Linked DNA regions of Homo sapiens. The protein of the gene in region 1 interacts with the protein of each later gene in a pairwise test. Each region holds a gene or a part of one and is shown in the gene's direction. Other genes may lie near its edges.

Region 1 (7,030 bases):
ATAGAAGTGTTCAGCAAACTTGGAATAGAAGAGAATGCCCTTTAGCCTCATAAAGGACATCTTTTAAAAACCTACCATTGGCATTAAACTTAAGGGTAAAAAGAATGACAGTTTTTCCTCTTAGATCAGGAAAAATAAAATTTCTCTTCATCCACTTTTATTCAACAATGTACTGAAGGGTCTAGCTAATGTAGTAAGGCAAAAAAAAATTTTTTTTAAGAAAACGAATAAAAGGAATCCAGATTGGAAAGAAGTAAACTTGATTTTATTCACCGACAACATGATTGAATTTTTGTAGCAAAATTGTATATTTACAAAAATACTAGTGGAAGTAAGTGTAATAAGGTTTCAGGATATAAGATTAGTATTCAAGAAACAACTGTGTTTCTTTATGGCTGCAATGAATGATTAAAAAGGGAATTTTAAAACTGCCATTTGCAATAGTATCAAAACCAGGAAATACCGAGGCAGAAATCTGATGAAACAGTGTGCGCTCTGCACTGATAACTACTGCTCTGTTTCTAAGTGTCCCCCAGAGTTCATGTGTTAGAAACTGAAGCCCCAGTAAGAGAGTGTTGAGACATGGGACCTTCAAGAGGCGACGCGAGTGCTCACGGATGGACTCATGTCTTTATTGTGGATGCGAGTTGCTTATAAAAGCCAGTTTGGCCCTCTCCTGCTCTCTTTCTTGCAATGTGATGCCTTCGGCTACGTTATGACACAACAAGAAGGACCCTCACCAGGTGTGGCTTCTTGGTCCTTGACCTGGAGGACTTTCCAGCCTCCAGGAGAACTGTGAGCCAAATGAACTTTTATTTTTTTGAGGCAGTCTCACGCTGTGACTCAGGCTGGGGAGTGCAGTGACACAATCTCGGCTCACTGCAGCCTCCACCTCCTGGGTTCAAGCAATTCTTGTGCCGCTATACTCGGCTGAAGTTTGCATTTTAGATACAGTGTTTTGCCATGTTGGCCAGATGGGTCTTGAACTCCTGGCCTTATGTGATCTGCCCACCTCAGTCTCCCAAAGTGCCAGGATTACAGGCATGAGCTACTGCTCGCAGCCAGCTTCTAATGTTTATATTAATCAATTGCATAGGCAGTGGTATTCTGATAAAGCGTACCGAACGGATGAAGACAACTGCAAACACTGCTGAGAGAAATTTTTAAAGACCTAAATAAATGAAAAGATTTGCTGTTTTCATGGATCAGAAAACTCGGTGTTGTTAAGAAATCAAGAAATAAATTCTCAGCCAGGTGCAGTGGCTCATGTCTGTAATCCCAGCACTTTGGCAAGCCAAAGCAGATGGATCGCTTGAGGCCAGGAGTTTGAGACCAGCCTGGCCAACATGGTGAAACCCCATCTCTACCAGAAATTATAAAAATCAGCCTGGTATGATGGTGCATGCCTGTAATCCCAGCTCCTCAGGAGGCTGAGGTAGGAGAATTGCTTGAACCCGGGAGGCAGAGGTTGCAGTGAGCTGAGATCACGCCACTGCACTCCAGCCTGGGCGACAGAATGAGACTCCCTGTTAAAAAAGAAAAAGAAAGAAAGAAAGAAATTCTCCTTAAAATTCATCTGTATGTACATTCATTCCAATTCTAGTCAGAATTCCAACAGGCTTTCTGTAGAAATTAATAAGCTTATTCTAAAATTAATAGGGAAATGCAGAGGACCTCGATTACCCAAACAGCTTTGACAAAAGAAAAAGAAGACTTATGTGACATAGTTTCAATGCGTATTACAAAATGGCAATAAAATAATCAAGGCAGTCTGATAGTGGCATAAAGGCAGACAAACAGATAATTGCAACAGAGCAGAGCCTTCAGAGATAGACTCACACGTGTACAGACAATTGACTTTCAACAGTGGCTCCAAACAGGAACCAAAATGGCGCTGGCCTTCTAAATGGCAACACTGGAAATGCTGAGGGTTCCAACTTATATATATATAAAATTAGTGAAGAACTATCACTAAAGGGATAAATCAAGAGGAAAACGTAAGATCCAGAAAATAGATTCCAGCACATACAGGGCAGGAGTGAAGGGATGTCATGGACGGTAACTGCAGGAAGCGTAGGCATGAGCTACTGCAGATTAGAGCAGGAGGAGCTGAGAGGGAGGGGGTAGGGGGAAGGAACTGATGTGTTGGAGTTCACAGAGAACATTATTGATAGGTGTGTGGCAGAAATGTTGCAGAAATAATTTACAATCGGACCATAGAAAAACTGCATAGTTTTAAAATGTGGCAATTAGTAACTCCACTAAAAAAGGATTATGCTTGCACAAAAAAGGAGAGGTGGTTTTGTCAACTACTTGTCTTGACAGTGTGTATTATCTGCGGAGTCACAGTAATGCAAATCTGACTTCCTGATGAATGTAGCTGAGTGGAAATGGGGTTTGCTGTGTTTGCTGTCCACATTGCTCAGCATCTGAGATGTAGCCCTTTGTGAGAGAGCTGGTGCCCGAAGGGGGTGTCTCTTCTGCCTGTGCTCTGTTACTCAGGCCTGCCGTTGGTCACTCCATGTGCCTCCTCAGTGTTTGGTTGTGTCCAGCCCTACTCTATGGCAGGACAGTCTGCTTTACTTCATTTACTAGTTTCCTATCAGCCAGTTTTTAGGGGAAATCTTTTCTAGAATAACTTTGATTCTAGTGTGTTTTCTAGAATAACTTTGATCCTAATATGTTTTAGGAAAAATATAAACATAATATGCCGGGCATGCGGTGGCTCACATCTGTAATCTCAGCACTTTGGGAGGCCAAGGCAGGTGGATCAGGAGTTTGAGACCAGCCTGATCAACATGATGAAACCCTGTCTCTACTAAAAATACAAAAATTAGCCGGGCATGGTGGTGGGCACCTGTAATCCCAGCTACTTGGGAGACTGAGGCAGGAGGATGGCTTGAACCCGGGAAGCAGAGGTTGCAGTCAGCTGAGATTGCACCACTGCACTCCAGCCTGGGCAACAAGAGCGAAACTCCATTTAAAAAAACAAAAGACAAAAAATAAAATTATAAGTGCCTTTACTAGTCTTGTTTAAATAGGCTGATTCTTTCTCTTTTTTTCTAATGCCCCCTAGGAAGTAAAAAGAAAGAAAAGGAACGGCCAGAAATTTCTCCTCCATCTGATTTTGAGCACACCATCCATGTTGGCTTTGATGCTGTTACTGGAGAATTCACTGTAAGTTAACCTAGTTCGGGCCCATTTATAACGTTTAAAATAGCACTCAAACATTTTCCTTCATTATTAAATTTGAAATTAACATTTCAGGCCAGGTGCGGTGGCACACGCCTGTAATCCCAGCACTTTGGGAGGCCAAGGCTGGCAGATCATTTGAGGTCAGGAGTTCGAGACCAGTGTGGCCAACATGGTGAAACCCCATCCCTACTAAAAATACAAGAAAATTAGCCAAGCGTGGGGGTGTATGCCTGTAATTCCAACTACTCAGGAGGCTGAGGCAGGGGAATCATTTGAACCTCGGAGATGGAGGTTGCAGTGAACAGAGACTGTGCCATTGCACTCCAGCCTGGGCAAGAAGAGTGAAACTCCGTCTCAAAAAAAGGGAAATTAACATTTCTATCTATACGTTAACTATGAATTCTTACTGCTTTTTGCTTTTTATAAAAGTGTTAGTGGTTGGATATATCGTTTTCCTAGAGAGCAGAGCCTATTAATTATAGTTATGCAAAACAGACTTAGAAAAAATAGACCTAGGCCGGGCGCGGTGGCTCACGCCTGTGTAATCCCAGCACTTTGGGAGGCCGAGGCGGGTGGATCACGAGGTCAGGAGATTGAAACTATCCTGGCTAACATGGTGAAACCCCGTCTCTACTAAAAATACAAAAAATTAGCCAGGCGTGGTGGCGGGCACCTGTAGTCCCAGCCACTCTGGAGGCTGAGGCAGGAGAATGGCCTGAACCCGGGAGGTGGAGCTTGCAGTGAGCCGAGATCTCGCACGACTGCACTCCAGCCTGGGTGACAGAGTGAGACTCTGTCTCAAAAAAAGAAAAAAGAAAAAATAGACCTTTAGAAAATGAGATCTTTTAAAATTTACTCAAACCTACACTCAAAAGATTGGTTTGTTTTGTGTATTTTGTCATTTATCTCTGGAAATTAATTTTATTGCATCAATTTAAACCATAACTAATTTCTGAATATCTTCTTGTTAGGGCATGCCAGAACAGTGGGCTCGATTACTACAGACCTCCAATATCACCAAACTAGAGCAAAAGAAGAATCCTCAGGCTGTGCTGGATGTCCTAAAGTTCTACGACTCCAACACAGTGAAGCAGAAATATCTGAGCTTTACTCCTCCTGGTAAGAGAGTGGCATAAGGCTGGATCAGATGGAGATTTGTGAAGCACTTCTAGATAAAAAGATTACTCCTGGAAAAATGAAAAGCTAAACTATGGTTCTTGTTGATAACGGTTTTTCCCTGGATAGATTCTACCTTTTGTAGACTGATCCAGGGCAGTTCTGAAGCATAATTTGGATCTGTGAATTATAGTAATCTCATAGGTTTGCCAGAAACGGGAGTTGATGGATATTTTGGCTTTTTGTTTATTTGGTTTTTTCTCCTCATTGCTGTGTTTTTGTTTTCATTTTTCACTCTTCACTGCTTTTAAATGACTTCCAGCAATCAAAGGAAAAGACGCTGGTTGATAGACATGTTCATACTAGAAACACATTTATTGTTAGCGGGACAAGAGGAGGTTGAACTAAAAAATGTTTAGGTCCACTCAAAAAATTGAAACTCGCAAGTGTGCAGATAATAGAATATATGTATTTTAATATATAAAACAGATAAATCATATACGAAAGAAGCGTTAGAACTAAAAGGATTTATACCTCAGAAATGGAATATCTGGAATATCATCTACATAGTCACAGTAATGCAAATTTTACTTTCTGGATGAATATAGCTGGATGGAAATGGGGTTTGATGTACTTTGTTTTCCAAGTTGCTCAGTATCTGAGATATACCGTTAACCTATGAGAGAACCAGTGAATTGGTATATAGTGTAAGAGTTGGTGTAGTGGATTTTTAAAAATAGTTTTTGTTCAAATAAAGATCAGAATAAAGTTCATACAACGCAGTTGGTTGATACATCTCTTGAATCTCTTTTGATCTTTAGGCTTCCCCTCCCACACACTGGTTCATGCTGTCTTTTCTTGACGTTTATTTATTACAGAAACAAGATCATTTGTCCTGTTTCCCTCAGTTTAGATTTTGCTCACTACATCCTCAGGATGTCATTTTTCAATATGTTTGTCTGTCTCTGAAGTCATACATGTGGTTTTCAAAAGCAATATGATGGAGCTAAAATCGTACATGTGGTTTTAATTGATTTTACTTACTGTTTGCATCCTCACAGAAACAAAGGCCATGTGCAAGGGAGAAATAGAAATCTTTTTCAAGTGATCTTGACCTTTTTTTGTTGAGTCTAGTACACCGTTAGGAAAAGGTCACACTTGCTCCTAGAACTTTTCTATCAACCAGTAAGTCTGTGTGTAAATTAGTAATTTTTTTGAAAAACCAATGTTTGACCACAAAATGGTAGCTTATTTTCACCTAGTACACATACATACATATATGTGTGTGCGCACGCGCGTGCGTGTGTGTGTTTTGTTTTGTTTTTGAGCTGGAGTTTACTCTGTTGCCCAGGCTGGAGTGCAGTGGCACAATCTCGGCTTGCCAGAACCCCCGCCTCCCGGGTTCAAGCAATTCTCCTGCCTCAGCCTCCTGAGTAGCTGAGATTACAAGCATGCGCCGCCACACCTGGCTAATTTTGTATTTTTAGTAGAGACTGGGTTTCTCCATGTTGGTCAGGCTGGTCTTGAACTCCCAACCTCAGGTGATCTGCCTGTCTCTCGGCCTCCCAAAGTGCTAGGATTACAGGCATGAGCCACCGCGCCCGGCCTGTGCGTATGTAATATGTGATATGTGTGTGTGTGTGTGATATATATATATATATATACACATATATATATATATATACACACACACATATACACACACACACACATATATGTATGTCTCTGGGCATTTTTAAAAGAAAAACAAAACAATGTCAGAATTTTACTTTGCACAATTGTCATTGTCTTAATTGTTGCATTAAGTTCCTCAGTCAGCAGTTTTCTGGAGAAAGTATCTTTATCAATAAATTTGTTTTGTTTTAATAAATACAGATTGATAGGTATACTTTCAAACTAAATTTTGATAGCTTTATTGAGGTATAATTTACATGCAATACAATTCACCCATTTTAAATATATAATTCACTGATTTTTACTAAATTTATAGTTTCATGTAGATTTCAGATTTCTTACCTTGGTCTTATATAAATTCTTATTTGACTACTTGCGTGTTCATTTTTCTCAAGAGTTAATTCAACTTGAAATCAGTTTAAGAACATTTCACTTTCTCTGCTTTTTTTTTTTCCTTTTATCATATAAAAGTGCTGTTTCTTGAATTGCTAATGTTATGTTTTGTTTCATATTCAGAGAAAGATGGCTTTCCTTCTGGAACACCAGCAGTAAGTTAATTATATTATTTCTTGTATCTCTTGTTCTAATTTAGGTTACCCAAGACAAATCTCAGTTTTTATTTTGCTTTCTAAAATAAATTACAGCCATCAGAGGTAAATAACTACTCAATAGGTGTTTTTAGCTAGCCACCTGATTAGTTGAAGAAGCCGTATTAAATAGAAATTCCTTGATGTGATACTTAATGTAACTAAAATTTATAATGACCTTCAGAACAGTTTAGTTAGTTTTGGTAATGTTAACATATACAAACGTGAACACAAAGAACTTGCTAGCATATATTTTCCTCTCCATCCCTCAGTTTTCCTTCTGGTACTATTTTACTGAATATAGACTGTGGAAAGGTGCTGAACAGTTGAACCTTGTCAGTCTTCAGAGTCATCTGAAACTTAAGTTATCGCATAAACACAGTCAGTTTTTGGAAACAGTCGTTTTATTTGCAGTTTCTCAATTGGGAGGAAACAGTCTCCTGGAGTTTTATTTTTTT
Region 2 (7,030 bases), on another chromosome or scaffold:
TCAATATCATTCAATTTAGGACTTAGAAGGTATAGTGTGGTGAAGGGTGTTTGTGGTTGTATCTGATTCTCCAGCTACTCTGAAATAATAATGCTTAGGCGTTGCTTTCTCTAGCAGTTCCCAGAGGCTTCTTCCAACTCCTTCCTCTGTAGTTTCTAGTGCCTCAGAATAGGCTTGCAGCAAGAACAGTGTCCATGGATAAACTTGAGTATATTGGGGTTTTCTCAAAAGAGAACCGAGTACAGTTCAGGAAACTTCCCTCAAGCAGATGCAATGACTCTTCTTGATGCACATTTCATTTTCTGATTAGTTTATTTATTTTCAAAATCAGTCAAGTACTTGTACAAGTGAATAATACCAGTGTTGCCATGTATAGGCATTTAATAACCCTGGATAAGGAACAACTAAAACCAGAGGGAGAGGTTTTTTATCACAACTTTTGCTCTCATGCCTTATTCTGCTAATATTTAACTTCTGCTTATTATTTTAGATCTACTCATCTCTACCACACCCACCCAAAACATGTATCCACATGCACACACACATGCACACTCCCATTAGGACTGATGGGCTAAAAACAAGTGATTTTTTTTGCTTTGCTACTATTTTGGCATACATGTCATTAACATTTTCCCAGTTGATCAGTTCTAAGGGAGACTCAATAAGTCTGAAATCCCCGGAGATACTAGACACTCTCTCTAGTCTATTGCCTCTTGTTCACCCAGGCTTTGACAAACTAAAACAAAACTCTTGTCAATGTATTTCTGGAAAAGTTTGAATTTTATATTGTAGCATTCAGAAATATATTTGGAATGTGTTGTTGTTTAACTCTTTAGTAATATTAGCATTACTCTTTTACCAGAAATATATTAATGTCTCATTTTTAGATGCATCTGGGCTTTTTGGTCATTTTAACTTTGAATGCAAAATATTCATTGATTAAATGAATAAAGCAGTGAATCCTAGAATAGGCAGACTTGTGTAGGTTTGCATTTGCATGTATCTTTATTGACCCCCCAAAACGTGAAAAATTGATATTATATATTTTCACTCTAAAAACAGATTATAGGTTTTCAAGAACATGTACAAAAAAGATAGAAATTTGTCTTGATATGGTTCCCAGAAAATATGCAGCTTAAAAATGGAACAAATGGCTCTACCTAATGGGAAGACAGACCCTTTAAAATCCTATGCCCATTACCAATCATGTCCCATATGAAAAGGTACATTTTATTTCCATCACCACATTTGGGGAAAAAATGATGCAATCTGTTTTCTTTAAGAGACTTCTAGACATCCTGGAACAAAATGTTTTTAGAAGGGGCATTTCCATCCAGAAGGTGGGCATCTGGTTACCTTCAGATATGCATACTTACATTGTTGGCTGGCAAATTAATAGATTGTACCTGTGCATGAGAACACTTCTAATTTCAAATATACATATTTGAGACTCAATATATTTTAACACACTGACTACATTTCAAAGGTAACAGGTAAATTGTATTGAAAACAACATCTGATTGGTATCTTCACTGGGGACAATAGCATATCAGATTGACAGTTGACTGGTAAAGTGAAATGTATTTCCTTAATGTGTTTTTTGCCAAGAGTTGAGTAGTATTAGACAGGCCAGAGGTCATATTTGGGAAAGTCATCTAAAGCCAGGAAGAGCCCATAGGCCCAGGCAGGCAAATACTTGAATTCATGATGAGCTGAGAGGGGCAAGGTCAAACAGCAGAAACAGAACTGAAGCTGGGAGCAAAAGGCAGACCTGGGCAGAAAGTTTGGGCAACATGGAATTGGGATCCTAGGCAGTTGGGATGCAGCGGGTGGCAGTTGGGAGGAAGGAGAGCAGAGAAAAAGGCACTTTTGACAGTGACTCAACTAGGCACAGCTAATAAACTGTACAGATGCAACCATGTCAAAAAGGCTCCACCTCCTTATTTATGGACTGTCGAGGACATTATGTAGGTGATGGGCATTGATTGTAACCCATGCATATGAGCTTCCTGTAACTGGGCTGAAACTATTGATACATTCAGGCCAGAAGAGTGGGTCTGAGTATGCACTGTTTATTTCCTGGTGGGCGCTGCCTTCTCAGCTTGGCTCTCATTTCCCATTACTGCTTTGCTCTGACTCACTGATGGCCTGCCACATGTCATTAGGCGGCTCAACTGCTGCTCTCATTTCTCCCAAAGGTATATGGAGGTTTGTGTCTTGGCTTCTACACTTTTTTTTTTTTTTTTTTTTTCCGGAGAGCTGGAGGAAGTGGCCTTTTGATAGTTTTGTTTGTTGAGTTGAATACTTGTAGTGTCTTACGGTTTCAATTTTCCTTTCTCATAGATATTTGATCCTGATGACCTTTATTCAGGGGTCAATTTCTCCAAGGTACTGAGTACTCTTTTAGCTGTCAACAAAGCAACAGAAGGTAAGCCGGGCTTGTGATTTATATGTTCTGGGTGACATTTTTGAATCCATGTGTTTGTGATTACCCTAGGAGCCAACTCTGGCCAGGATTGTTCTCGTGATGCAAATTTTCCCCTTGCTCCCCCAAATACACCCCAACAAATGTCAAATGCTTGAATTTTTCATGGCTTAGGATTTAAAATATACCTATCATAGATGTTATTCTAATGCCCTTAATATAATGATAAGAACTAAGAAACTATTCCATTCAAAGCTCTGAATCACCAACTGAGTATAACAAAACAGAGAAGAAAAAGGAAAGACCAGTTCCCTTTTTCATAGAGTTTACAAAATACAGCCGTCACTTCCCTTTCCCCACTAGAGACATATTTTTCTCATTGTTTTATGTATGCCTTTGTCCATGTAAAGGAACCCCTCAGTAGCCTTGCACCAAAAATGAAATCTTGGGGTCATAGGGAGTGAAAATAATATCTTTTATTTAAATGTTTAACACCTACCACACTAGAGGTATTAAATATAAATGCTAGTAAATGTGAAGAAAATGATGATACACTTAGAATGTAGCTTCACTCCTTCCCTGGTATATTTTACCAACAGCTGAATAGTAATAATCATACTTAAAATGCTTTGAGCTCTTGCCCTGGATCTAGGCTGTCATAAGAGCCACAGGTGATCTCATCCAATCCTTGAAACAACACTGGGGGTAGGTATTATTATTATTAGGTCCATATTACAGATAAGGAAAGTCAGGCCAACAGTTGCCCAACTAGAAAGTTAGTCGCTGAGTTGGGATTCAGACCCACATCTGAATGACTACAGAGCCCTTATGCCCAAGCACGAGGCTTGCTGCTCAAACTGTTGTAGAGTCAAGAGGCTGTGTGCCCAGCATCGCCAGGTGCTACAAAAAATGTCAAAGCTATGGTCCCTGCCTTTGAGAAAATTACTGTCTATTTAAGGAGACTCAACTTACCCACGTGAAACAATTAGAGGACAAGAGCAGACAATATAATCAAGTGCCAAATAGGTTAGAGCATCTAGGAAGCTATCGAGTAATTATAGTTTTTGTCAAAAGAGCTGTATATAATAGCAATACAAGTAAAAATACTTCTCCAAAGTTGTTCTTTTGCTATTTGGAAAAAAAAATGCTTTTGAGCTATTGCAAGGCGTATAGCTGAAAGTACAGCTAATTCAAGTAACTATATTTAACACACATGACAACTATCCAGTTCTAGTCAGGGAGGATCGTGTAATTCTAACATTATGCCACACAAATTATACGTTCCTTTGCCAAACTCTCCTAGCAAGTTTTACAGTCTCTTCCCTTGCCACAGATATTTATAAAATACAAGGAGGTGAAAGTTAAAACCCACAGCATCAAGGAAATTACTTGGATACTGAGCTTGTCGCCTAGGGAATGTTTGGGCTTTAGACTTTTGCAGTTTATATCTTTTAAAAATAAATGGAGAGGAAAAGAACCCTTATTGAAATTTGTCAAGAAGCCAGCTCCTCTCTTTTGTATACTCTCAACAAACTGAAAACATCCAGCTCAGCTCTGGCCTGGTCGAATTTCACAAGGTTTCAAGGAAGAGAAGACTCTTGAATCTGATTGTTAAAAAAATTATTCTAGTATCAAGATTACATCTTTCCCAAACACATCTTCTCTTTCACTCTCATTCTCCACCCTGCCCCACACACATCAGGGAGATTTTACATCATATATGCCACACATATTGTTACGTGTGAGTAAGAAATGAGCCACTGAGTTATGGGCCAAAAAACAAAGAGAGAAATTTGAAATATTTCAAAGTAATAAGAGCCACAAACAGCTGTTTGGTACCCAATATAGTTCTGCCTTGGATAACAGGGCATACTGTTGCAACTGGTTCAGGAGGGAAGAGTTGTAGGGAAATGGTTAAGAGAAAATGTGGTTCTGTCGCTGTTTTTCATTCTACTGGAGCACGATGGCCAGTAAGGTTAAGAACAGGAAGTTGGCCACCAAAAAGGGAAGGGGGATTGAAATACACTTGGCATGTTCATAATGATAACAGTTAGAATTACAGCCAGGATGCCTCTGATAGTATCCTGAGAAAGATAATGTTATGCGGTAGATGTTTTTCTGATCTGAGTGGTTCCTTTAACATGCCTTTTCCTCTTTTCACAGATCAGCTATCAGAAAGACCATGTGGACGTTCCTCTTCTCTTAGTGCTGCTAATACTTCTCAGACAAACCCACAGGGAGCAGTTTCTAGCACAGTTTCAGGGCTGCAAAGGCAGTCAAAGACAGTGGTAAGTATAGTCCCCAATTCTCCGTCTGTTTTAAAATCCATAAAATTAGATTGATATCCTAGTTGCATCTCCATATGTGGTGAGACAGCCATCCGGGTTGTTTTGGGCATCACTGAGAAAACTAATTATAAACCGAGCACCAATTCAGGCTGGCCCGAAGGAGCAAATCAAAGGCATGTGGTGGGGCAAAAATCCGGATTGAAGCTCCAGCTCTGTCCCTTACGAGAATTAGGCAAGTCACTTAACTGAGAATGCTATGCAAATGGAAGTCATTATGGCTACTTTCTGATGGCAGTTTGCTGTTAATTTCCCTATCCCTTGTTTTATTAGAACTAAATAGTGCCTGACACATAGTAGGCAATCAATAAATATTGATTAGTATCCTCATTATTATTGCCATTTTTATTTTTCTCTTTCCATTCCTAATGAGGAAGGCTTGATTTTAAATTTCAGTCTATGATGAGCTTCTATATTAGGATCTCCCAGTTGCCTTTTCACTTGCTCTTATTGGGAGCTTTTATTTGGGAGGAAATGCCTCATCTTCTGCTCTTTGGGTGAAACCTTTATTTCCTGTCAAAAGCCACCCACTTGCAGTAAGACATTATGACCTATTACTTCCAAAGCACTTGAGCATGTGGTTCTTAACTTTTTTGGATCACAGATCCCTTTGAAAGGCTGATGAACACTATGTCTCTACACCCCTGGTACCCTCTCAAATTGTATACAAAAGCCCATGTGTATGAACTTATTTAGACAAAAATATGTTGTGCTCATCAGATTCTCTAAAGGGTCTGTGACCCTCAAAAAGGAAGTCCAGTTTATACATGACAGATTAAGAATTCCTGACTTAATATATCCATGTAATAAAACTGCAGTTGTACCCCCTAAATCTATAAAAATAAAAAAATGGAAAAAAGAATTCCTGACTTAGGCAACTATGGGTTATTTGATCTTTGCATATAAATAAGTCTTAGCCAAATTAAGATATCCTTAGTAATTAGGAGATGGGAGGCAGATTTTATGGAGGGTAGGTTAGTACATCTTGGTTATATAATTATGTGGACTGTTTGTGTGTTGAGTAGAGGCAGGGTGGAATAGCTTATCCAGGGTGGAATAGCTTATCACTCTACTTTGTTATCTGGCTTAGTTAAATAGATAATCTTTAGATAATGGGGAGGGGTGTGGAGAGAAAAATGAAAGCTATGACCCACTTCAAAATACAGATTCTCACAAATGCCAAAGTTTACATACTGTTTTGAGGGATTTATTAATCCCTCTGAGACCCATTCATGGATTCCTAAGTTAAAAACTCAGGACTGAGATGGATCTGGGGTTTTGTCTTTGCTTCCTCCACTTTATTTGCCTATATCCATATCATTTCTACCCCTGCCTTATTTAGATGAGTGCTTAATCTGGTGTGGCTTTTGTTTCTCTAGGAGATGACGGAAAATGGAAGTCATCAGTTGATAGTAAAAGCAAGATTCAACTTTAAGCAGACTAATGAGGATGAACTGTCAGTTTGTAAGGGGGACATCATTTACGTCACACGAGTTGAAGAAGGAGGCTGGTGGGAAGGCACATTAAATGGGAGAACAGGCTGGTTCCCCAGTAATTATGTCCGTGAAATTAAATCCAGTGGTAAGTGAAGTTTTTAAAAGGCTTTTTGATTGTGACTCTTGTACTTTCTTGGTATTCTTACTGAAAATTGTGTAGTTTTAATTGGTTAACAGAAGCTGTTTATACTTGTATGTGTATGCCAAAAATAAGAGTAGAACAGAACTGGGAAAAATCTGTGATTAGATATTTTGAAACAAATTGTATTTAGATTACATTAAGGCAGCAGAAAAATAAAAAAAGCAAAGGAATTCAAAGCTCAGACAACTGGTCCACCCTAACTGTATCCCTTTATGTCTACTAATTCTAGCCCATGTAATATAGTACATAGTCCTTCTCACCACTCTAAAACTTACCATGGCAGAATCCAATAATAAGAGAGGCCATGTGCTAACTTCCTTTTTTTAGCCTTAAGCCCTGTAAGCAGACCTGAGACTAAATGCCTCAGACATGAGAGATAATAATGATAGGGCTGCAGGAAGCTGTCTGGCCGCTTTGATGCTGAACAAGATTGCCCTTAACTCACTGAATACTGCTAGCTGTTTACCTTTTTTTTGTAACAATAGCCAGAGAATGAAATCGAATTGCTCTTCAGTAGTCTTTTCTTCTCTCTCTCTCTTTTTTTAATTATTATTTTTAGACAGGGTCTCACTCTGTTGCCCAGGCAGAGTGCAGTGGCTATCACAACTCACTGCAGCCTGGA
Region 3 (7,030 bases), about 60 Mb from region 1:
AGTAACTCCCCTGTATATAGATAGCCAAACTACCAGTCATGTATGAGAGAACAAAATCACTTTCAGATATGCATTCTAAAAAATTTAATTCCAATATATTTTTAACTCAGGAAACAACTAGAGGACGTGCTCCAGCAAAATGAAGGGTAAAGCAAGAAAAAGTAAGACATAGGATCTAGGAAGCGGAGGAACTGTGGGCAGTAGTTCCAATATTGGTTTCATTTTCTAAACTTTTGCTGTGGTATTTGCATCTTTGCTTTATGCAGGGATGTGTGGGGCTTGAGTGGTGTTTATATTGTACTTCATTTCTTAGTGCCTTTGTGATGCTTCTTTGGATATTCTATGCATGTCCAATTTGGGAGAGCCCAGTACTTGTGTTGGTCCATAACTAGAATTATAGATGTCGAAGATAAACTGGACACTAGTTAAAATGGTAAGGACAGATTTTATTCAGTAACTATTGCAGTAGGGAAGAGTGTCCAGTGTGAACTCAACTCACTTTTGCCAAAACAAAAGGGGAAGAGACTTTTTTAAAGGTTGAGTATGCTAAGGGAAAGACACTGCTAAGGGAAAGAAAGATGGTTTTTTTGTTTTGTTTTGAGACGGAGTCTGTCTCTGTCACCAGGCTGGAGTGCAGTGGCGTGATCTCAGCTCACTGCAGTCTCCGCCTCCCAGACTCAAGCAATTCCCCTGCCTCAGTCTCCTGAGTAGCTGGGACTACAGGCACGCACCACCACGCCCAGCTAATTTTATTGTATTTTAGTAGAGACGGGGTTTCACCATGTTGGCCAGGATGGTCTTAGTTTCCTGACCTCGTGATCTGCCTGCCTCGGCCTCCCAAAGTGCTGGGATTACAGGCGTGAGCCACCGCGCCCGGCCACTGAGTGGTTTTTAAGGGCAATAGGTGGTCCATGTGAGTAGGCCATCTGGGTTTGTTATTGGCATTTATCTGGAAGAGAAACAAACTTATTATTTATGACAGGAGGTGGTGGTACAAATTAGGCCCACCAATGTTTGGCCCTTACCCTCTCGCCAGGGACTGGGAACAAAAGTGAAAGTTATCTTTTTGATTGTTTGCATTCCAAAGAGGTAGTTCTCAGGTCCTTGGGAAGATAGTTCTTGATGGTAGAAGATTTAAGTCACAAAGGGACAGAGAAAGGATTTATAATTTCAAGCTTTCTAAGGTAACTGCTCTAAATGGGGGTTCAGGTGACCATCTGCCTATCACCAGGTTTTGGCTGGAACAAACGGTAAATTCTGGCCATGTGGAGCCTTTTCAGGTAAGGAACTTGATGGAGTTGGAGTCATTATTCTAGGATATGGGGAAAAGATATGAACAAGCACTTTACACAGAAAAACAAATGTAAATGTCCCTTAAATATGGGAAAAGAAATCACTGTAATAAGAGAAATACAAATTACAACTCTGAAATACTATTTCTCCCCTATTAGATTGGCAAAAATCCAAAAGATTGACAACATAGTTTGTTGGCAAGGCTGTGGGGAAATAATCACTGATATATTGTTAGGAGTTTTTAAAAATAGTTTATGAATACAGAATTTAGCAGTATCTCACAAAATTATACAAACTTTAGCTGTAACTCAGCATTCTTCTATGATTCTAACCCAAAGGTACACTAACAGAAAATCAAAATGACACATGTATGAGGCTGTTCATTGCAGCACTATTTAATCCCAGAAAATTACAAACAACCCATTGACCATCAGTAAGGTCTAGTTGAAGAAAGTGCTACTTACATAATGATGACGCACTCTGCAATTGTTAGAAGTAGTAGATGTATTAGTAAAGGAAGTCTCATGTGCTGCTGTGGAATGATCTTAAGGATAGATTGTTAAACTGAAAATGAAAAGATTCAGGCAATATAGTCTATGCCTATGTGTATGTGTGTGTGTGTGTGCGCGCCTGTGTGCATGTGTGTGTGTATGTTTTGTTGTGGGGGTAGATAAAAATTAGAATTTTCAATTTTCTTATATATTTTTCTTGAATACTTTCCTTAAATTATTTAAAAAAAAATAGAAACATAAACCAAAACAAATAAATAGCTGTCCAGGCCGGGCGCGGTGGCTCACGCCTGTAATCCCAGCACTTTGGGAGGCCGAGGCAGGCGGATCACGAGGTCAGGAGATCGAAACCATCCTGGCTAACACAGTGAAACCCCGTCTCCACTAAAAATACAAAAAAATTAGCCGGGCATGGTGGCGGGCACCTGTAGTCCCGGCTACTCGGAGGCTGAGGCAGGAGAATGCCATGAACCTGGGAGGCGGAGGTTGCAGTGAGCCAGGGTCGCTCCACTGCACTCCAGCCTGGGTGACAGTGCAGTGCGAGACTCCGTCTCAAATAAATAAATAAATAAATAAATAAATAAATAAATGGCTGTCCAGTGGGGTGGATGGGAGAGGGGAGAGAAAAGAGAAGGTATGGAAGAAGACCTCTCTAAATGTTTTAAATATGTTTGATATTTAAGCATATTTAATGTTTAAACATTCATATAAACAATATTAAACATAATGTTCAAACATGTTTGATATTTAAACATCTACCTTGCTTGATAGTTTAGCTTTTAGAACCATCCAAATGTTTTACATAATTATGAAACAATTACATTTTAAAAAGGGAAAATAAAGTGATCTTCAAAAAATGAAAACAAGTGAGCCTAACTCTACGTCCAGTTGGTGTCATAACCACACAGAAGTATATATTCTACCTTTTCTGTAAGGTTTTATGTTTTAGGGTAATAGAACAATAAGCAAAATTTTCCTTTGAGAATAATCACAGTTTCTGAAAGCAGGTAGAGCTAGCACATCATCATTATTGAAATAGTTGATCTAGGCAGTGATCATCAGTGGCAGGTAAAACCATTGGGTAGAGGTTTGATGGGGGAACTTTATAATAATGGATAAATCAGTTCAGTGCTACAAATCTACCATTCAGTCTTAACATCACAGAAAATGGTTCAGGCAGACATAATGTGCCTCCTAATAAATGGCAATAACAAGTACACAAGAATACTTAACGAATTATTCTTGCAACAATGACAAAACAACCTAGAAAAAGTAAAGCCTCTAGAAATAATTACCAGTTTATAGGAGATAGGGGGGATAGAGGAACACCATGAAAATATACACTAGCCAAATTCACGATGTGGGAAATGCTACAGGACAAGTGAAGCCAGCTTCTTAAATAAATGACATAGAGTGGGGAAAGAGAACAGTGTCAGAGACTTAAAACATGTTAGCTTAAGTGCAATATATCGACTTAGTTTGGATCCCAGTTCACACCAACTGTAAGAATGTTTAAAAAAATACACTTAGCAAAAATTGAATATTAGCATTAGATGAAATAAGTGTTGCAGGAGTTCTTAATAAAGGAACACCTTTTCAAAATGAGCTTTTGAAAATATACTGATAATTTAATTTTAGTATAATTGACTTGTTTGCAATCTTATATATTTTTATGCATCAGAAACATTGTGAGTAGAGGTTCTATGTTTCACCACACTGCCATTAGGCAGGAGGAGGGGAGGTCCATGGCTTAACCCATTTGTGCCTAGTGTTCCATTATTGGAACGCTAAGCTTGTGAGAGTTATTTATATCATGCTCAAGGTCGTCACCAAGGTCTGATTTTTCACACAAGAAATTGCAACCTCCGGCATATATGGGTTAAAAAAGGGAAAAGGTCAGGAGCCCTTGATTTGTTCATTTTTGAGGGGTATGGGTTTTTAATCTGTTAGTGCTTAATGAAATCATGGGATTCCAGTTCCCCCACCAAAAATTAGGGGGATAGCTGAACCACAAGGCATAATATTGATAAAATTGGGTGATAGGTATAGGATTCATTATACTATTCTCTTCTGTAAATGTTGAAAAGTGCCATAATTATAAAACTTAAAAGCATTATATAAATTTTTAGTTATTATACCAGTAATGTAGTAGAATGCTATTTTTGTACATTCTGGGGAGGACTAGATAATATTGGTAATACTTTTGTCACCCTGATAGGTAAAGTGTGGTATTTCAGTTTAGTTTTCATTTCTTTAATTATAAAGATATTCAGGATCTTTTGAATACTTTTTGACTATTTGTGTTTTCTCTTTCAGTTTTTATTTTAATTAAACTTTTTATTTTGAGATCATTATAGATCCACATGCAATTCTGAGAAACTTTAGAACTTATTGCGAGATCCAGTGTATGCTTTCCTCCAGTGGCAATACATCTGGCAGAAGTATAGTACAATATCACAATAATATTACAAAATTTCTTCATATTGCCCTTTTATAGTCATACTTACTTCCCTCCTGTTCCTGCTGCCCCGTTAACCCTGGCAACTACTAATCTGTTTCTAATTTCCATATTTTGTCATTTTGAGAGTGTTATATAAATGGAGTCATATAGTTAACCTTTGAGATTGGCTTTTTTCACTGAGCAGTTATAATTCCCTGGAGATTCATCCAGGTCGTTTTGTGCATCAATTGTTCTTTTTGGTATGAACGTACCAGTTTGTTTAATTATTTGCCTGTTGAAGGACATCTGGGTGGTTTCCGGTTTTTGACTGTTAGAAATAAAGTTGCTGTTAACATTCATGTAAAATGTGAACATAAATTTTCATTTCTCTGGGATAAATACCCAGGGGTGCAGTTGCTAGCTTGTATGGTAGTTGCATGTTTAGTTTTATGAGAAACTGTCAGACAATTTTGCGGAGTATCTGTACCATTTTACATTCTCATCAGCAGTATACGTGTGATCCAATTTCAACTTACCCTTGTCAGCATTTGGTATTACCACTCTTAGCCATTCTGACAAGCGTATGTAGTGACATCTCAGTGTGGTTTTAATTTGCATTTCTTTAATAGCTAATGATGAATACCTTTTCATCTGCTTATTTGCCATCTGTAAATCTTCAGTGAATGCCTCTTCATGTTTTTTTGCTCATTTTCTAGTTGGATTTGTTTTTCTAATGTTTCTTTAACTTTTCTAACTGCTTAAGATAGATACTCAGTTCATTAATTTATTTTTAGCTCTTTTTAAAATTTTATTTTAAATTTTATTATTATTATTATTATTATTTTTTGATACAGAGTCTCGCTCTGCGGCCCAGGCTGGAGTGCAGTGGCGCGATCTCGGCTCACTGCAAGCCCCGCCTCCCGGGTTCAAGCCATTCTCCTGCCTCAGCGTCCCAAGTAGCTGGGACTACAGGCACCCGCCACCACGCCTGTCTAATTTTTTTGTATTTTTAGTAGAGACAGGGTTTTACCGTGTTAGCCAGGATGGTCTCGATCTCCTGAACTTGTGATTCACCCGCCTCAGCCTCCTGAAGTGCTGGGATTACAGGCATGAGCCACCGCGCCCGGCCACTCTTTTTGTTTTTTAATGTTACTATTTAAAACTAAAAATCTGTCTATATACACTCCTCTTGCTACATCCCACAGAGTTCGATGTATAGTTTTTAAAATTATTTACTTCTAAGTATTTTCAAAATTCAATATGATTTCTTCTTAGATTCATTAGTTTTTAGAAGTTTCCAAACGTGGTATTTCAAAAGTTATCTTTTTGTTATGGTTGTTGGAGAATATGGTTGTAGGATATCAGTTACGTGAACATTGAGACATTCTTTATGGCCTGGCATTTGATTGCTTTTTGTATGTGTTTCATTTGTTTTCTATTTGGAAGCAATATTCTGTATATGTCTATTAAATCAGACTTGCTGGTTGTGATATGAGTTCTTCTCTAGCCTTAATAATGTTTGTATTTATTTATTTATTTTTTTGAGACCAAGTCTGGCTGTGTCACCCAGGCCTGGAGTGCAGTGGCACGATCTTGGCTAACTGCAACCTCCGCCTCCCAGGTTCAAGGGATTCTCCTGCCTCAGCCTCCTGAGTAGCTGGGATTCCAAGTGTGCGCCACCATACCTAGCTAATTTTTGTATTTTTAGTAGAGATGGGGTTTCACCATGTTGGCCAGGCTGGTCTTGCATTCCTGACCTCAGGTGATCCACCAGCCTCGGCCTCCCGAAGTGCTGGGATTACAGGTGTGTGCCACCAGGCCTGGCCGTTTTTATTTCTTTGTTTTGTTACTCTGATAATATGTTAAAAATTGTCCTCTGTGGTAATGGGTTTGTCAAGATCTCCTTGTGGTTCTGTCAACATATTTTGAAACTATCTTGTTACTAGGTACATAGAAGTTTAGATATTGTAATTGAGTAGAACATTTTTCATTGGGTAGTGAACTTTATTGCTAGTAATGGTTTTTGCCCTTTAAGTTTTGTTTGATACTAATAGAGCAACACCAGTCTCTTTATTGATTGGTTGATTGATTGATTGAGACAGATTCTCCCTCTGTCGCCAGGCTGGAGTGCAGTGGTGCGATATCGGCTCACTGCAACCTTCGCCTCCCAGGTTCAAGCTATTCCCATGCCTCAGCCTCCTGAGTAGCTGGGACTACGGGTGTGCACCATCACGCCCAGCTAATTTTTGTATTTTAGTACAGATGGGGTTTCACCATGTTGGCCAAGCTGGTCTCGAACTCAACCTCAAGTGATCTGCCTGCCTTGGCCTCCCAAAGTGCTGGGATTACAGGCATGAGCCACTGCGCACGGCCATACAGTCACAGTCTCTTTAAATTACTATTTGCCTCATGTATTTTTTTCCATATTTTTTACTTTTCATCTTTATGTCTTTAGATTTTTAGGTGTGTCTCTTTTGAAAAGCATGTGAACTAATACTACCTCAACCTTACATAAAAATATTTTCCATGTGTTTACAGTGCTGAAGCTGCTGAAAGATGGCAGAAGAAGTGGTGGTAGTAGCCAAATTTGATTATGTGGCCCAACAAGAACAAGAGTTGGACATCAAGAAGAATGAGAGATTATGGCTTCTGGATGATTCTAAGTCCTGGTGGCGAGTTCGAAATTCCATGAATAAAACAGGTTTTGTGCCTTCTAACTATGTGGAAAGGAAAAACAGTGCTCGGAAAGCATCTATTGTGAAAAACCTAAAGGATACCTTAGGTAAGA
Region 4 (7,030 bases), on another chromosome or scaffold:
TGGTTGAACATAAATCCTTAGGCAGTCACGTGAGAATCTACAATCAATTGTAAAAAACTAAATGCCCTCTTCTCCATTTGGATCCAGTATCTAATTCCTGGGTCCTACTGGCCTACTTTAAAATGACAACCTGCAGTTGAGTGCTGAGACTTTAGAAGCTATAATTTAAGTCATAGAGAGCCTATCCATTGAAGACTTTTTACTAATAACTGCCCAACCCAGAAAAGTAGAGATAAAATAGTAAGGATGGAAATACAACCTACTGTGCAAGATGGTGATCTCTGAAGTCAGACAGCCCGGTTCTAATACTGGCTCTGTCATTTACTTTGTGGCCTTGAGCAAGTTACTTAACCTCTCTGTGCCTCAGTTATCACAAATGAGAAGCAGGGACAATTAAGGTATTAGAATTGTGTGTGAGAACAAAGTGATTAACATATGTAAAGTTCTTAGAACAGTGCCTCATGTGTGATAAGAGTTAGGTACATGGTAGCTATTAAGAATACAGTCTCGATACTTGCATACAGCCAGGAAAAGGAATGAAAATGTAATTAAAAGATAAAGACTACAAGAAGGAAAAATGTAATTACAAGAGTATCCTTTAGAAGAGTAAGGTAGGATGGAGTGTATGTATTTTCTTCATAAAATAGTTACCATGTTTACTGATAATTAACAATATGTTTATATGAGGTAATAGTAATAGGATATTAAATTGGGAGGGGAAATATCAGTTTTGCATGAGTAAAAACTACGCAAAATTATTTTGAATGAGTTTATTTTTGCAGGAAAAATCAACGACCAGCTACAAAAAACAATTTTTAAAGTTCTACGAATTCTGATGTATCCCTACCTCCTACCTACCAAAATCCAAAAGCACATCTGCTCCATGTAGCTTTCCTTGACTCCCCAAGAATAATTCCCTGTTCCATCTCCAATCCAGTTTCACAAATTTGTTTACATCTCTAGGATCTTCCACTATTGTATAACAATTTATATGCTTCCTTATTTTCCCATCTCTGCTGTGCTGGGAACCCCTTAAGGGAAAGGAGCTGTGTCTTTCATGTCCTGTGAAATCCAACAGTCAATTCTAGGTCCTCCTCTTGATCTCTTGGAAGCTTTTTTTATGGTTCATTACCCTCCTTCCTAAAACATTTTCTTGGCTTGGTTTCTGGGATGCCACATTCTCCTGGTTTTGTTTCCACTCAACAGCAAATCTTTCTCCATCTCCAATGCCACCTCCCCTCTGTCTTCCCAACCACCAAATGTTCGGAAACACTGAAACCTCAGTGTTCAGTCCCTGGGTCCTCTTCTTTATTTACACTTAGGGTATGCTTGATTGTATCTAGTTTTGTAACTTTAAACATCATTCATATCCTGATAACGGCAAAACTTGTAGCTCCATCATCAAAACCCTCTGAGACTCAGATTCATATATCCGACTATTTGAATATCTAATAGGCATCTCATTCTTAACCTGTCCAAACTGAATTTTTTAACTTCCCCAAGCTACTCTTCCCCTAGGCTTCCCCATGTATGTACATGACCACTCTTTTCCACCCGGTTTCTGAAAACAAAAACTTTGGTATTGACTCCTTTCTTCCTTTGACAACATTCCCCTCCCTTTCCATTTAAACCATTAGTTATCATCCCTTCCTCCTACCAATCAGCTCAACATTCAAAATACATCCCAAACCTGATCACTTATCACCGTCTTCATTGCCTTCATTCTTGTCCAAGCCACCATCATCTCTCATCCAAACTACTATAATCAATTCCCAATTCCCTACTTCCAATCTTGCCCCCTATCATCAATTCTCCACATAGCTGGCAGAGGGACTGTCCCAAACCCCAACTTCTCCAATCACTTCCCTTAACACTCAGACCCAACCCTATATTATGTTGTATATGATGCACTCCATGACTCAGTCCCTGTTATCTCTCCAATCTCATCTCTTAACACTCTCCTCATCAGTGTTTTTGCTTTAGCCACACTCACCATCTTGTTATTCCTCAAGCACACCCAACTCCTTCCCTTGAAGAGTTTGTACTTGCTTTTTCCCCAGTCTCATACTATTCCGCTAGATCCCCCCTAGCTTCAATTGACCACATTATTTAATGCATGTGTGCTTGCACACACACACACTCTCTTTCTCTCTTTAACCTATCTTGCCACATCTTTCATTATAATAGTTAATACTACCTGATATTATATATGTATTTGCTATCTCCAGCTTCAAAAAACAAAGTCCTGCATATTATAGACACTCAACAGACTCTCAACTCAGATTATTCTCAACTGAATAAATGAATTACTATGTCTTTGCAATCTTAGTCCTTCCAACACTTAGATAGTTTCTGGTCCATTAAAACTTTGATGAATAAATGAACAAATTGCTTGTCCAATAGATATCTGTTTAGGAATGAACATACAAAAATGTTTATTATATTTATTATATTTCTGAACTATTTTATTCATATTTTAAATAATCATTTTATCCCCACTGTAACTGTAATATAGCATTGAATTTTCTTTTTTTTTCCTTTTTTTTCTTTTTTTTTTTTTCTTGAGACAGAGTCTCACTCTGTCACCAGGCTAGAGTGCAGTGGCACAATCTCAGCTCACTGTAACCTCTGCCTCCCAGATTCAAGCGATTCTCCTGCCTTAGCCTCCCAAGTAGCTGGGACAATAGGCACGTGCCACCACGCCCAGCTAATTTTTTTCTATTTTTAGTAAAGACGGGGTTTCACCATGTTGGCCAGGATGGTCTTGATCTCTTGACCTCGTGATCTGCCCACCTCAGCCTCCCAAAGTGCTGGGATTACAGGCGTGAACCACCACGCCCAGCCAGCATTGAATTTTCTTGACCTAAGTGGCCAGTGTCACATCTACTGAATAGCTTAACTATATAATGTGTAAATATCACTTGGGATTCCTTCATCTACATTATGTTCAAAAGCTGACATACATTTTGGGTGCCTCACTCAAACTCCTCTAGTTCTAATATACAGAGCATATTTCAGAGTAACCCTAAGTTCGGCTGACGGCTAGGTCTAAAGGGTAGGAGCAGTGGGATGAAGGTGGGAAAAGTCACTCTTGTTTATTACAAGTGTGCCTAAGAAACAACCCTGGGCTCTGCTCCTTACTCCCTTCCAGGGATGACTCAACGCGTCCCAACAACCTTTAGAGCTTTCACAGCTTACCATGGAAGAATTGCATTTCTTCCCCCATCCTATCTTTAGTTTTGAGTTTTGTAGCAGACCCCTCACTGGTAAAATATTCTTACCGATTAATGTTTCACTTGACATATAGCATAAGGATAAGAGCTCCATTTTGAATTTAGATTGTATGTTGAGTTAGATTGTGTACATGGTTTATATGTCGGGGTACATAGGTGTGTAAAATAAGCTCATTCCAGCTGAAACCTCTTTACGATGTTCACCATTTCCACCATCCTCTGTATTATTTTGTCTGTGAATCTTTCTTCTATCACCCACCCTCCTAGAGCTTCTTTGTTGAAAGCCATCAAATTTGGAAAACCACATGAAGCCACTATTTGCAAACCCAGGCTGCCTATGCAGGAAATTAACACAATTCATGGAAAGAAGAGAAATCCAGTTACTCTATCAGCTGATTGAGATGTAAAAGGAAGTTGTTTTTACAGAAAGCTGAAAGTCAGTTCTAACTTTTTCCACTTAGTTAAATGGTGATCAGCCCAAGGTAGACAGTCATAACCTTAATGGCCAGAGCAGGGAGTGGGAAACAGGTCCAATCCACAGGGGGAAAAAATAACATAATTATAATAAATAGTGAATAAAAATAAAGTCCCAGGTTTATAAAAGGTTGTGACATAGTTCTGCTCATTTGGGAAAATTTATTCATAAGTTTCTCTTTTGCTCTTTCTGAAGACACCCGAGAGTCTCTCATATCTGTAATCCCAGTGCTTTGGGAAGCCAACGCACAAGGATCCCTTGAGCCTAGAAGTTCAAAGTTATAATGAGCCATGATCATGCGACTGCACTCCAACCTGGGCAACAGAGCAAGACTTCATCTCTAAAAAAAAATTATGGATACATTAATGGTTGTTCTTATTTACTTATAGAGTATATGTGATGTTTTGATATAGGCATATAATGGGTAATGATTAAATCTGGGTAAATGGTATATCCATAACCTCAAACATCCATCATTACTTTGTGTTGGGAACATTCTAAATCTACTCTTCTAGTTCTTTTGAAATATACAATAAATTATTGTTAACTATAGTCACTCTGTTGTGCTACTGAATACTAGATTTTATTCCATCTAACTGTATTTTTGTACCTTGTACCAAAAAGCCAACCCTTCTTTATCATAAGGTGCTATCATTTTCTCAACTTTCCTGATGAACAATTCCCGGCACAAAGATACTACTCTATTTCCCTCAAGGCTAAACTGCTTGTAATGGGGTAAGTGGAGGCCATGGAATAGTAAACAATATGAGCAGTGTATAGCTAATAACAATAAAAGAGCCACTGTTAGTTAGGACCTGCTATTAACAAGTAAACCAAACATGTAAGGGATTAACTCAATGGCAAGGTATTCCTTGCTCATGTGATGCTCCTGAGCAGGTATTCAAGTCAGTAGGGCTGCTTTCTTCCATGTGGTCATTTAATGTCTCAGGCTTCTCACATCTGGTAACTCTGACATCCCCTAGGATTTCAGTTATCTGCATCCACACAGCTGAATGAGAAACAGCATGGAGAAACTTGAATGGAAAGTTTTATGGGCCAGGCCTGGAAGTGACAAACATCGTTTTCAATCACACTGCATAGGAGTTTATTTAGTCACAAGGCCATGCCTCACTGTAAAGGAGGCTGGAGGGAAAGCCCCCCTCTGTGCCCAAAAGAGGGAAGAATGGATTTTGATGGAAGCTAGCAATCTCTGCCTGCATCAGACTCTGTGGCCACCAAATATCCTTGCACATTTTTTCCCACATGTAAAAAAAACTCACTCTTTTCCCCAGAAGGACCACCTAGAGTTGCATTCTGGCACTGCAACTGTGTCAAAGACCAGCATCTGTTAAGTGATGCATGATTCTGTTCATTTGATCTAAACGTGATTCCTTGTGATCCAATAAAAGACAAATTATCTACCCATATACACAATTTGCCCCATGCGGTGGTGGGACAGGAATGGGATAATCAAAACATTCAAACTCCCTTTCAGAAAGGGAAGAATGGGAGACACATTGCAATAATAGAATTCTGATGACAATCCTGATAGTATCATCTATTAATGGAATCCAGAAACAATCATTTTCTAACTCTTTGAACCCATGAAAATCTGTGTTCTATCAATCTCAGCTTTAAAAACAACCAATTCATCTCTTCCCTTTCTTATAACACCTTGCTAAATATGTAAAATAACAATTAATACATACTAACATTCTGTCATTTTCCGGTCTCTTCATAGAGTGCTATGGACTCAGTGGGAAGTAGCTTTACCTTCCAGGTTTCACAAACAATAGTTTTACAAAATGTTTTGCCACAGTATAACACAGATCATCTTTCCAACCTGCTCTGTTTTGTCACCATCTGCCACCTAACAGCTAAGCCAACAGCACATGTATTTTTAGGTTTTTGTAATGATGGCACCATACTACTATGTAAGCTAAGATGCTGTAACAGATAGGCTAAAATATATAAGGGTTCAAACTATTAGAATCCTATTTTCTTACATAATTGCAACATGTATTTTAGATTTAGAGGGTACATGTGCAGGTTTGTTATCTGGGTATATTGCATGATGCTGACATTTAGGATATGAATGATCTTGTCACCCAGGTGGTGAGTACAATACCCAATAGTTAGTTTTTTGACCCTTGCCCTCTTCCTTCCCTTCCCAACTAGTGGTCCTCAGTATCTATTGTTGCCATCTTCCTGTCCATGTGTACCCAGTGTCTACCTCCCACTTATAAGTGAGAACTAACGTAGTATTTGGTTTTCTGTTTCTATGTTACTTTGCTTAGGATAATGGCCTCCAGCTGCATCCATGTTGCTGCAAAAGACATGATTTCATTCTTTTTAATGGCTACATAGGATTCTGTGTTGTATATGTACCACATTTTCTTTATCCAATCCACCATTGATGGGCACCTATGTTGATTCCATGTCTTTGCCATTGTGAATAATACTGCAATGAACATGTAAGTTCATGTGTCTTTTTGGCATAATGATATATTTTCTTTTGGATATATACCCAGTAATAGGATTGCTGGGTAGAATCCTGCTTTTGGTCATATAAGAGACCTTGGCAGGTCTTCAGGTTGGTGAGATAGTTCTGTTCCATGTAGTCATTCAGGGATCTACTTTTTTCCATCTTGGTACCCTGCCATCATCTAGGGCTTTGTGGTGCTCTGTATCTAGACACTAGAAGATGAAAGACTATGGAGGAGTAAGGGTAGGGAGTGGTGGTATGGGCCAGGCTGACAGGTGGCATGCATCACTTCTGTTCACATTTCACTGGAGAGAACTTAAACTGTAGGCCACACATTATCACAAGGAAGGCCAGCGATGTGCCCAAAGAAGGGACAAACAGACTTTAATAGACACTTAGTCATCTTCACCACAGTCATTAAGTTGAAATTGCTTATACCAAATACAATACGCACAGATAAACATATCAACTGCCTTAGCACCATGTTTAACTCCCTATTTATTCCACTACATATGACATACCTATATTTCCCAGACTTGCCTGGCCATAAGAAAAGCTTACTTGTTAAAAATGCAGATTCTTGGGTCCATGTAAGGGCTTCTACACCAGACCCATTTAGAGACAGAGCTGTGAATATGAATGTCAATAAGCTTCATAGAAATTTCTAATTAGGTAGAACTTGTGACACTGCTGTTTTAGAGTTCAAACCCATTTAGATATCACAAATGTATATAGTTTCAGCTAATGTGACTTAGTAGGTTCAGAAAACCCTTCTTTATGCTGTAATGGTGCCTATGAATCAAGCCAAAAGGAGCAATTCTATAGTCAACCATCCAT

Evidence for each region.
Region 2: the proteins of PAK2 (region 1) and ARHGEF6 interact in binary tests that used the Homo sapiens proteins (3 or more experiments, as listed by UniProt).
Region 3: the proteins of PAK2 (region 1) and NCK1 interact in binary tests that used the Homo sapiens proteins (3 or more experiments, as listed by UniProt).
Region 4: the proteins of PAK2 (region 1) and RHOJ interact in binary tests that used the Homo sapiens proteins (3 or more experiments, as listed by UniProt).

Annotation. Positions count from the first base shown.
Region 1 is NC_000003.12:196,798,851-196,805,880, forward strand, and holds part of PAK2 (serine/threonine-protein kinase PAK 2), read left to right. Parts: intron 1-3,076; coding exon 3,077-3,177; intron 3,178-4,166; coding exon 4,167-4,314; intron 4,315-6,501; coding exon 6,502-6,533; intron 6,534-7,030. UniProt on the Homo sapiens protein: Serine/threonine protein kinase that plays a role in a variety of different signaling pathways including cytoskeleton regulation, cell motility, cell cycle progression, apoptosis or proliferation.
Region 2 is NC_000023.11:136,742,906-136,749,935, reverse strand, and holds part of ARHGEF6 (rho guanine nucleotide exchange factor 6), read left to right. Parts: intron 1-2,343; coding exon 2,344-2,428; intron 2,429-4,588; coding exon 4,589-4,713; intron 4,714-6,149; coding exon 6,150-6,351; intron 6,352-7,030. UniProt on the Homo sapiens protein: Acts as a RAC1 guanine nucleotide exchange factor (GEF).
Region 3 is NC_000003.12:136,921,204-136,928,233, forward strand, and holds part of NCK1 (SH2/SH3 adapter protein NCK1), read left to right. Parts: intron 1-6,780; 5' UTR 6,781-6,798; coding exon 6,799-7,024; intron 7,025-7,030. UniProt on the Homo sapiens protein: Adapter protein which associates with tyrosine-phosphorylated growth factor receptors, such as KDR and PDGFRB, or their cellular substrates. Maintains low levels of EIF2S1 phosphorylation by promoting its dephosphorylation by PP1.
Region 4 is NC_000014.9:63,207,416-63,214,445, forward strand, and holds part of RHOJ (rho-related GTP-binding protein RhoJ), read left to right. Parts: intron 1-7,030.